Homo sapiens: one gene and its partners. The protein of the gene in region 1 interacts with the protein of each later gene in a biochemical or structural test. Each region holds a gene or a part of one and is shown in the gene's direction. Other genes may lie near its edges. The genes, in order: ELK1, MAPK9 and FLI1.

What was found.
Region 2: of the proteins of ELK1 (region 1) and MAPK9, one has a biochemical effect on the other in vitro, tested with the Homo sapiens proteins (2 studies listed by BioGRID).
Region 3: the proteins of ELK1 (region 1) and FLI1 form a complex in vitro, tested with the Homo sapiens proteins (one study listed by BioGRID).

Annotation. Positions count from the first base shown.
Region 1 is NC_000023.11:47,643,817-47,647,566, reverse strand, and holds part of ELK1 (ETS domain-containing protein Elk-1), read left to right. Parts: intron 1-3,750. UniProt on the Homo sapiens protein: Transcription factor that binds to purine-rich DNA sequences. Forms a ternary complex with SRF and the ETS and SRF motifs of the serum response element (SRE) on the promoter region of immediate early genes such as FOS and IER2.
Region 2 is NC_000005.10:180,243,446-180,247,195, reverse strand, and holds part of MAPK9 (mitogen-activated protein kinase 9), read left to right. Parts: exon of another isoform or gene 1-1,176; intron 1,177-3,750. UniProt on the Homo sapiens protein: Serine/threonine-protein kinase involved in various processes such as cell proliferation, differentiation, migration, transformation and programmed cell death.
Region 3 is NC_000011.10:128,767,003-128,770,752, forward strand, and holds part of FLI1 (Friend leukemia integration 1 transcription factor), read left to right. Parts: intron 1-1,115; coding exon 1,116-1,270; intron 1,271-3,750. UniProt on the Homo sapiens protein: Sequence-specific transcriptional activator. Recognizes the DNA sequence 5'-C[CA]GGAAGT-3'.

The DNA of each region.
Region 1 (3,750 bases):
CCCTTGTGAGTACCAGGCACTCTTCTAGGTGCTGGAATATGGCAAGGAACGAAACAGGGCGAAATATTTGTGCTTGTGGAGCTGACATTTATTAAAAGTTGGGGAGGCTGGGCACGGTGGCTAACACCAGTAATCCTAGCACTTTGGGAGGCTGAGGTGGGTGGATTGCCTGAGCTCAGGAGTTCAAGACCAGCCTGGGCATCACGGTGAAACCCCATCTCTACTAAAATACAAAAAAATTAGCTGGGTGTGGCGGCGTGCGCCTGTAATCCCAGTTACTTGGGAGGCTGAGGCAGGAGAATTGCTTGAACCCAGGAGGCGGAGGTTGCAGTGAGCCAAGATTGCACCATGCACTCCAGCATGGGTGACAGAGCGAGACTCTGTCTCAAAAAAAAAAAAAAAAAAACCCAAGCTGGGGAGACAGACTATGTGAACAAAATAAATAAGTAAAATTAGCATAATAGACAAATGCTGAGAAGAAATAATGAAATAGGGCAGGTAGGAATCGAGTATTGGGGGTGGTTGAAATCTTAGGCATAGGGAAGGTGACTCTTGAATTAGGGCCTCACGGTAGAGACGGAGAGAGCCTTAATGTCTACGGGAAGAGCATACCAGGCAGAAGGAAGTGCCAGTTCAGAGGCCCTGAGGTGGGATGGTGCCTGCCATGTTCAAGGAACATCAAGGCGGCCAGTGTGGCTGGAGCAGAGTGCGGGGAAGGGTAGAAGGTGAGGTCACACAGGTGATGGGAGCCAGATAGTGCAGGTGATACATAGGATAGGATTGCAGGGGCAGGGGGAGAAGGATGACACACTAGCTAATAGCTAATATCTGTGGAGTATCTGCCACACATCAGAGGCACTTTTCTGTTCAAATACCAACCCCCAAAGGATGTTTACCACACGGTGGTGCCTGGAATGCACTACAAAAAGATACATGTGTCAAAGATATTTCTAAGAATGCCAGTTTATATATGAATAAGGATTTTCCTCCTTTTCAAAAGGATATGTTCACAAAACTGAGGTATGTAATATGCTCTATGGAGGCACAGGTATAAAAGCTGTTTCTAAGAGTGCTAGTTGTATATGTGAATAAGGACTGTGTTGTTGCATTGAAAGAATGTGTTCACAAAACTGTGGTGTATAGCTGGGCACAGAGGCTGAGGTGGGAGGATCACTTGAGCCCAGGAGTTCCAGGCCAGCCTGTGCAACATAGTGAGATCCCCGTCTCCGAAAAAAAACCCAAAAAATAACCACTGTGGTGTGCATAATACACTCTCCTAAAGGCACAGGCATAAAAGATGTTTCTAAGAGTGATTTGATTTTCTGGCACCTGGGTAGTGTTATTTCAGTAAATATTCATTGTTAAACACTATGGTGCTTGGAATATACTATACAAAGGCACATGTATAAAAAAGAAGTTCCTAACAATGCTACTTGTAAAAACAAAAAAAAAAGTCAACCCCTCAAGTCTTTTACAGAAGTATTTTACAGAATTGACACAGTTAATCCTCACAGAAGCCTTGGAGGGTAGGTGTACTTTTGAGAATATTTGACTTTGAGAGTAAAATATCCCCATTTTACAGATGAGGAAACAAGCAAAGAGAGGCTGAGTAACTTGCTCAGGGTAACCTTGAGCCAGAATAGCCAGAACAGGGGCAGAGGAACATAAGGCTGAAGACTCAGAAAGAAGAACAGATTTGCAAGGGCAGGCAGGTTATTTGGCACCTTTGATCACGCAGAGGAAGAATGAATTCTTCCTGGAATGCGATGATTGTGTAATTGAGTCCATGAAGTGAGGGAAGAGCTCTCCCTGCGGGGAGAGCAGCCCGTGCTTACCCTCAGAGGTTGGAACTGTCTCGGGAACGGTAGATAGTTCAGGGTGGCTGCCTCAGAGCCTTTGTACACGCCGTTCGCTCCGCCTGAAGGCCCTCCCCCACAGAGGGCAGCCTGGCTTGCTACCTCCCCTCCTTCAGGCCAGGTGTCACTTCCTTGGGGAAGAACTCCTTGTACACCCTGTGTAAAAACAGCATTCCTGTCACTCTCTAGGATCTTACCCTTCTCTGTTTCTCTTCATGGAGAACTGGTGGTGTAAGGCGATTGCTCACTAGAGCCAAACCACTTAGGTTTTGAATTCCGGCTCTGCCAACTTCCAGCTGTGTGACTTGGGGCAGGTTACTTCTCTGTACCTCCATTGCCTCATGTGGAAAATGGGGGAAATGATAATCCCCACCCTTTAACGGTGGTTTGAGGATTCAATGAGTTAAATGATTCAAAGAGTGTGCAGCCCACGGTAAGGATCGTATGCCTGGCTTGCATTTTTAAATTATTAAAATGTATTCATAGCATACCCGTAGATGTCTGACAGGCCTCTGAAACTGACCATCTCCAAAACTGGTGTGACCCCCCTCAAAACTTACTCTCCTGCAAGGCTCCCACCTCAGCTGACCACAATGCTGTCTTTGTGGGTGATTAGGCCACAAACCTAGACTCACCCTGGACCCTTCTCTCACCTCCCCCGGGCATGCTATCTGTCAGCAAGTCCTATTCTGTGTTCAGGCTTTCTCCAGACCCCAGCTACTTCTCGCCAGCCCCACTGCTACCACCATCATCTACCGCAGTGGCTTCTTCAGCCCCAACAGTCTGTTCTTCTCACAACCGCCAGGGGGATCCTGTTGAAATCTCAGTCACAGCCTGTCATCCCTCTGTTCACAACCCTCTTGTGGCTCCTGTCTCACTCAACATCCTGACAGCACCCGAAAAAGCCTGGCTCAGTCTGGCCCCCGTCACTCTGTTCTCCTCTCCCGCTGCCTCCCTCCTCTCCCCCGAACCCATGTCAGCCTCCTCTCCCCATGTCACCTGCCAGGCACTCTCCAGCCTTGGGCCCTTCACACCGGCTGCCGCTTCCACCTGGCTTGCTGCTCTCAGATACTCACGAGCTCAGTTCCTTCACCTCCTTTTGGTCTCTGCCCAGTTGTCCCCTCCTTGGCGACTACTCTCCCCTGACTCTCCATGTAAAAGTAACAGCTCTCCCCTGCTTGATTTTTTTCCCATAACCCTTACCACCATCTGACGCACTCTTGTACATGTTTGCCTTTTTTCTCATCTGCCTTTCCTGCTAAGATGTGAGCTCCTCTGGAGCAGGGATTGTTGTCTGTTGCGTTCTCGACTGTATCCGCAGCACCTGGCCCACAGTATGCACTCACCAAATGCTTGCTAAGTGAAGGAGATGGAAAGAAGTAAACATATCTAAGCAAGGCAGATTACTAGAACTCTTATGAGGGGTCAAGTGGGAGAAATAACAAAATACAAAGCCCTGTGTGCTGTTGAAGCTGGAAGCCCACCGTCACCTTTCACTCAGCTGATAGGTTCTGTTGCAGCTGAAAGAAGAACTGGTAAAATTGCCTGTCTTTGCCACCAGGAGTCACTCTGAACTCTTTGGACTTCTGAAACAAGCCTGCCTGCAAAACAAATTCAGTGAGGTCTCTGGTGACAGGACTCTCTAATCGGACACTTCATGGCTTTGTGACTTGTATAATTGAACAGGAAGCTCATGTTTATTTCCAGTTTGCTCTCAGGAAAGAAAGCAGTAATGGGGTGACAGGGAGGATCCTGTTCTTTGAAGGACATGCTGAGAGGGAATAGTCGGTGTGAGGGGCCGTTTAGCCTAATGGTGAAATGCTTAGTCAACTGGAACCTGACTGCCTGGCTCCAAATGCTGGCTTTGCCACATGTGGCCTGTGGAAGGTACGTA
Region 2 (3,750 bases), on another chromosome or scaffold:
TTAGCTCTTAATTTTGCCAAAAATAGCTGGACACATAGAAGAAATTATTTACTCTTTGATAAGTATATTCTGATATTTAAATGAAAATACTGTATTATTTAGTTTATTCCGTTAATTTAACTAGGAAAGATGCTATCTAAATTTAATAGGCTAGTGTGCTTGTGTGCTTTAATTAAGTACTATTTTGTTAGTTACTGGTATGCATTGAAATATTTTCCCCCAAAGTAAGAACTGAAGCACATTACAAAGGACCTAAGTGAAAGAGATTAAAATGAAAATTTTGTGAGGAACAATATGTTAAACTTTCTTGTTTGTTACTGTGCTGACATTTTGTAGAATTTTTTTTAAAAATCTGTCTAGTGGGTTATTTTGTGACACACTGGGGAAGTCAAAATAAATGTAAAATGAAAGAGATAAACTCATACTGTAGTCAGCAAGTCATGTTAGAGATACAGCAGAAAGGAGAATAACTACTCTAATTGTTACAATAGCCTTCTTTCCTCATTTGCCATTCTTCCATCCTCAGTATTTTTTACCCTAACATGGTTCTTCACATCTTCCCTTTTTCATTTGTGTTTTAACCACTTAGTTTTTCATTAGTCTTTGACTTTGTTTTCGTTATGAAAGTTTAAATTGGTCTCCATCCTTGGGCAGATTGATGGTTGCTTTTAAGGAAATCAAGCTCCATAGTCAGTGTTTTGTATGTATCTTAGGAAAATAATTTCAGATTTTAATAATTTTATCAAAGTGGTCTCCTTATAAATTCTTCACAGTGCAAACTTAAAGTGAAAATATTTTTATTTCTCTCATTTTATTTACCTTTCTTTACATTTTCTATATCATAGATTATATAATATGTCAAGTTATTTTATTTGTTCTACTAAATTTTCTAGCAGTTTCCATAGCCTCATCTCAGATTCACTTGTTGCAACCTATAAATAAGGACGTCTTTATTTTGCAAGTAAACTTAATTAAAAAGGGAAAAGTTGAAAAATTAAAAGACTAATAATTTAGAAATATCTACTTAATGTTCAGTTTGTCTCAATTCTTACTCATTTTGTGCCATTCCTTGTTTTATTACAAAATGTTTTCTTCAAAAAGTACAAAAATGAAAAATGTGAGTACTTTTTGGTGCATTTTAGTAAGTAAAATTAAAATTCCTGCTATACATATGAACATTAATGTCAGTAATTAATAGTGTTATATATAAGGTTACCTAATGTTATTCCCAAAAGCCACACAGAGTTTAACATCATTTTCTAAAGAAAATTTTGCCAACTCTTTCAAATATTAGATTGAAATTTGGGAGATAGAAAAAAGTTGCAGAAATCAGACTGAGGGTCTCAGAGATTTGCTTTAATTTGCGACCCAGGGTAGAAAAGGAACTCCTGTCCCTGCGGTGGTCTATGAGAAAGAGAAAGCTTTAGCCCGGCCACCTCGGGCCCCAGCTCAGACTCCTCCCCTTGGCAGCCATGCATCCTTGAGAAATTTAGGGCCTCTCTGAGCCTTGGTTTCCCCTTCTGTAAAATAGACCTGTGGTCTGCCTGCAGCTTCACGAGAGTTAGACAACAGGGTCCACTGGGCTTGTCGGAATTATTGTTCCCCTTCCCCCGTCCCTCTCATCTGTCCCCCATCCCTCCCACCTGTAGGATGCTGGGGTGGAGTCCTCTCGGGGAATCTGTGGGTCTCCTCTCACAACTGGTTTAATTTCTAGTCCTTTATCATTAACCCAGCAGATATTTCTCTCACCTGCCCATTTCTGGGTGCCTAGTCTGACTGAGATGCAAAGAGGCTCCTCCCAGCTGCTGAATTGAGGGTGGATCGTCAAGGGCAGGGCAGAGCAGGAGAACAGAGCAGAGGCTGCCATCATCCAGAGGAGAGGTGGAGGCCCCCAGCAGGCGGGTAGGGGTGTGGCCGGGGAGATGGGCTTGTACTCTGCTTTGAAGCTGGACCCTTCAAGGAGCCTTGCTAGGGTTTGGAGATGTCTGTTAGACAGTGGAATTTAGGGGCAAGGTCTGGGATAGAGAGATCAAAGTGGGTGTCATCCGTCTGTCGGTAGCCTTGAAGCCTAGGACTGGTAGCGAGCACTTGCAGGGGAGGAAGAGACCAGGACCCGGGACTTAGCCCCCTTGAGGTGGAGGGACAAAGGGAATAGGGAAGGAAATGGAGAAGGCACTCACGTGACCCCTCCTCCTAGAGTGTGGTGACTGAGGGAGGCTCATTCACATGAGGAGATGAGGACGGGGGATTGGCCCCTGGGCCTTGTGATGGCTGCTGGCAGCCATGATGGGCACAGCATTTATGGAGTGGAGGGAAGAAAGCCTGATGGGAGTATGTTTGAGAGAAAATGAGAGGCTGGGAATTAGAGACACAAGTGTAGACAGCTCTTTTTTCTTTCCTTTTTTTTTTTTTTTTTTCCTTTGAGACAGAGTCTCACTCCATTGCCCAGGCTGGAGGGCAGCGATGCGATCTCAGCTCACTGCAACCTCTACCTCCTGGGTTCAAGCGATTCTTCTGCCTCAGCCTCCCGAGTAGCTGGGATTACAGGCGCCCGCCACCACGCCTGGCTAATTTTTGTATTTTTAGTAGGGCCAGGGTTTCACCGTCTTGGCCAGGCTGGTCTTGAACACCTGACCTTGTGATCCACCTGCCTCGGCCTCCCAAAGTGCCGGGATTACAGGTGTGAGCCACTGAGCCCGACCGACAGCTCTTTATGGAAGTTTTTGCTGCAAATAGGAATAAGAAATAAAGCGATAGGTAGGGCCAAAGGAAAGCAGCTACTGTGTTAACATAGGAGAAAACACCATCATTTACCAACGTGGTGGAATGTATTGGTAGAGTGCAAAATGTCGATGATGTTGGAGAAGGAAGAGTTGAGGGAGCTTGTCCTTGAGTCAGGGGGGTTAGGGTCTAGAGCTGAGCAGGCTTAGTGTAGCCGGGAGCCCAGATGGTTGCTGTGTGGCAAATGGCACACAGATGCTGGGTGGGTGCATCCTGGGAAGTCTGTGGGAGTGAGCAGGCAGAAGAGGTATCAAAAGTATAAGGTGGGCTGGGCGCAGTGGCTCACACCTATAATCCCAGCACTTTGGGAGGCCGAGGCAGGCAGATCACTTGAGGCCAGGAATTCCAGACCAGCCTGGCCAACATGGCGAAACCCCATCTCTACTAAAAATAACAAAAATTAGCCGACCGTTATGGCAGGTGCCTGTAGTCCCAGCTACTTGGGAGGCTGAGGCACGAGAATTACTTGAGCCCGGGAGGTGGAGGTTGCAGTCAGCCGAGATCATGCCACTGCACTCCAGCCTGGGCGACAGAGCGAGACTCTGTCTTTATTTATATATGTATATATGGCAGAAGGAAAAGGTGTGAGACAGTTTTCACATTTTGGCTAAATAGGTAAATAAAATGTGGGCATAATTCTGATTTGACAATATGTATGAACCAGGAGTAGGAAGGAGAATTTGCTAGTGAATTGAATGCCAGAAACACATTTCCTGAGCGGGTCTTTTGGAAGTATAACATTTTGGAAGAACTGAGTTCATGTACCAGTTCCCTAGGTTATTTCATGGTGATGTAAGTTCATTTTTCTAAGACATGCCTCAGTGAGCACTTTTTTAAGCTGCTGTTGATGCTATTTTTTTCTCACTTGCATTCTCTTGTATAGCGAGTACAGTTTCAGTGTCACTTTCCCACATGTAATCCTAATTATCCCAAGCCTAACAAGCACCCTGTGGAATAGGCAAAGCTGGT
Region 3 (3,750 bases), on another chromosome or scaffold:
GAGCAGCGGGCACTGGGTGTGACAGGGTGGCACCTCCCCCAAGTATGCTGGAGGTGCGTGATGCTGGGCTGGAGGGCATGCAGAGTGTGTTTGCCAGCCAGCTTCAGGGCGCCAGGTGGCCATGGGTGGGACTTCACCCCTCCAGACAGCTGCCCATCACCAGTGCTGCAAAATACCAGGTGCTGATCAAGTTCTGTAGTTCTAGGCTAAGTTGGATGATCTGCTTTCTCTCTTGTGAATGTCCATACTGCTTCCACAGTGAGCTTGGGGCCAGGGATGCAAAATGCCACAGGGCCACCACCTCTCCATCAGGTGGAAGTTCCTGGACTCCATTCCTTCTCCAAGTAGCAACCAGCTCTTTTGCATGTGTGCTTGATAGTGAAGCTTAACACAGAAGACCTGAGTCCTGTTTCCACCTTGACTAGCTGTGTGACTGAGCCAGGCAGCCCCTGTCTCGATTTCATTAACCATGAAAAGGAGATAGTAACCCTTGCTGTGCCTATCCTGGGGGCTTATTGGGAAATTCGAATACAACAGTGCATAAGAAATGCATTAAACTTATATATGTGCAATAGAAATAACTCACTGAGAAAGCATTTGCTGCTCACCTCCTGTAAGAATACTAGGGTTAAACAAAGAAAGTGATGACTATCCTCTCAAGAACTCAGCAGTCAGGGGGCGCAGGCCAAGCTGAGAATCAGACAGTGTGACAAGTCCTTATAACCAAGGCGGGCACCAAGTGCTGGGGGACTGTGGGGAAGGCGTGTCTGGGAGCATGGACTAGGTTGCCTGGCAGTGAGGCTAAAAATGTAAGCTGCAGTCAGACAGGGAGGGCTGCGATGCCACACAAAGAAGCTCAGACCTTGGTCTGAGGGCACTGAGGCGCTGCCAGCAGTTTTTACGTACTGTAATTATAGGATTGGGCTGGGATTTGAAGAAAACTCTGGTGGCAGCATGGAGGATAGAAAGAGGGCATCATCATCATCATGACACCAAGTGTGGCCGGGCAATGGCTCCATGCTCATCATCGGAGCCCTGGGCTCATGATTCAGAGGCTGAGGCAAGCTGCCCTGTCAGTGCTGACCGCCTCTGGGCTTTGTCTCTTCTCACTTTAGGGAGTCTCCGGTGGACTGCAGCGTTAGCAAATGCAGCAAGCTGGTGGGCGGAGGCGAGTCCAACCCCATGAACTACAACAGCTATATGGACGAGAAGAATGGCCCCCCTCCTCCCAACATGACCACCAACGAGAGGAGAGTCATCGTCCCCGCAGGTAATTCGAGAACCAGGCTGCCTGGGCGCCATTCACTTCCCCACTCTCTGGGGGGGCAGGGAGCATCTAAACCTTTATCTGATACTCTATTCCCTGTGGAATTGCAAAATGGAGAAAGCTGCACGCCAGCCGGGAGTGGTGGCTCGCGCCTGTAATCCCAGCACTTTGAGAGGCCAAGACGGGTGAATCACTTGTCAGGAGTTCAAGACCAGCCTAGCCAACGTGGTGAAACCTCATCTCTACTAAAAAAAAAAAAAAATACAAAAATTAGCCAGGTGTGGTAGTGGACGCTTATATTCCCAGCTACTCAGGGGGCTGAAGCAGGAGACTCGCTTTAACCGGGAAGGCGGAGGTTGCAGGGAGCCAAGATCACACCACTGCACTCCAGCCTGGGTGATGGAATGAGACTCTGTCTCAAAAAAAAAAAAAAAAAAAAAAAGCTGCACATTTTACCTGACTTCCTAGCTGCCCTTTAAGGCAGTATCCCAGATGTCACCTGATGTGTGGGTGCTAGAAGCCCCACCCTTAAACAGACCACATCACAGACTCTACATCAATGGCCTGGTCCTCAAGGACGGGCTGCTCAGAGAGCAGAGGCAAGGCCGCCTCCACCCAAAAGGAATCCCGTGAGCTCTGGATGTGGGCATCCCTGCCTGTGAGGAGGAGGTCAGCTGCAGAGGCCAGTCCTTCCCTCCAGGCTCGTACTTCCCGGCATCTACCAGGTTCCACCTTTCCAAAATTACAGCCAGCTCTTTCAGTTTTAAAATAGAAAGAACTATATTTAACTAATGGAGTGCCTTAACATGTGTGCCACAAGTTATGTCATTAGGTAAAAATAGCCTCTTTTTCCTAGGTGTTGGTGCTGTTGGTCCCAGAAAATAAAATCATCGTTCAGTCCTTCAGTCCATTGGCTGGACACTCCACCCCAGCTAGCACCAGCAAGCTCAGCTGCCTGCACAAGAAGGGTGTTTACAAACTGCCACGTGTAGAACTGGTGCCAGGTAGAAGGGGCAAGGATGTCCAAATCTTAAGCAAAGTGATTACAGGGCAGGGATTAAACCTGATCTTACCAAAATAACTTTACCAGAGAGGCAAAACTCCTTCCATTTGTAAAAGCATAAATGTAGTTGCCTCTGAAGTCAAAAGGTTAGACATCTCTTTGAGGTAGTCCGAAGGCATCTGCTTGTAGGTCTAAAGGCAGAAATGTTAAGGGCTGCCTCCTGCCTTGGCCCGTGGTGTTTGTTTTCCCTGGGAAGCTGCATCTCACCATATCCCTGGATTACAGCTGCCTCCCTGTGCTCTGGGCCAAATTCAAGAAGGTGTGAGCAAGAGTGAGGCAGCAGACGGGTGGGGCTTGTAGAAATTTCTCTGTACCCTTTAGGACTTAGAAATGACTCCTAAAGCAATTCTAAGTTTGCTCTTCCACAAGCATCTGACCTAACAAAGGAAGAGGAAGAATCACTTCCATTTATTGAGTGCTTTCTAGGTGCCAGGCACCACGTAAATTGCTTTATCTCCATGGCATTACTTAAAACACCTGTCACAGGAGACCAGCTAGTAATGTTTAGCCCAGGTGTATCGTCTCCCTCCTCACTGAAAGCAGACAATGAAACTGTATTAGAACTGACAGGTGGGAATCTCTTTGTACAGCCCAAAGCAAAGCTGAGCCTCACTGGGTCTTCACTCAAATGGTTTCAAACTCCCCTGCTTCAGTCAAACAGCTCCCAGCCTGGGAGGGAAAGCTTGCTGGACTGAAGGGTTTGGGGATCTGAGATTGTCTTTGAACCAACCTTTGGCACCATCTCATTTTGGTCGTCATTTTGGGGAAGGAATCTTGGAAATGGGCAGAAGTGGCCAGACTGCTATGTCGACCCTCCAAACTTTCTTTGATCAGTGTTGAAATGCTTTCAAAAGGAATAGCAAAACATCAGGCTTGGCTGAGCCAAGTTACCTATAGCGCTGGTGGTGAAAATAAAACAAATTCATGTCAAATGATTTTCAAAGCACTTTCAGGCTATGGATTTACTTCATTATTTTAGCTCCGGCTAGATCTTTTAGGTCCTCACACATTTTGGCTTCCTCCAGGCCAGGCTGTGGATATGAGGGGAAGTCTCATTTGGGCAAGTCCACAAATCAAGGCAATAAAATATTAGTGGAATAACCGATTGAATTTATGATGGGATTTAAAGACAAGTATAAATGTGGGCCCTAGTTAATCACTAGCTCCATGTTCAGATGGGAAGAAACTAGGACTAAATCATCCAGGAAATGCATTTGGAAGAGTTTAGCATGATCCAGAGTTGAAGATTTATAATTCATTGTGCTGTAGAGGGAGAGTAATAATATTGTTGCAGAGCCCAAAGCAAGGGAGGAAATAATAAAATAAATAAAATATATGGTGTAAAATTGAATTTGAGGCCTTGGATACTAAAAGTGAGGAACTGGGAGAAGTGAAGAATGAAATAATATGCTACATAATC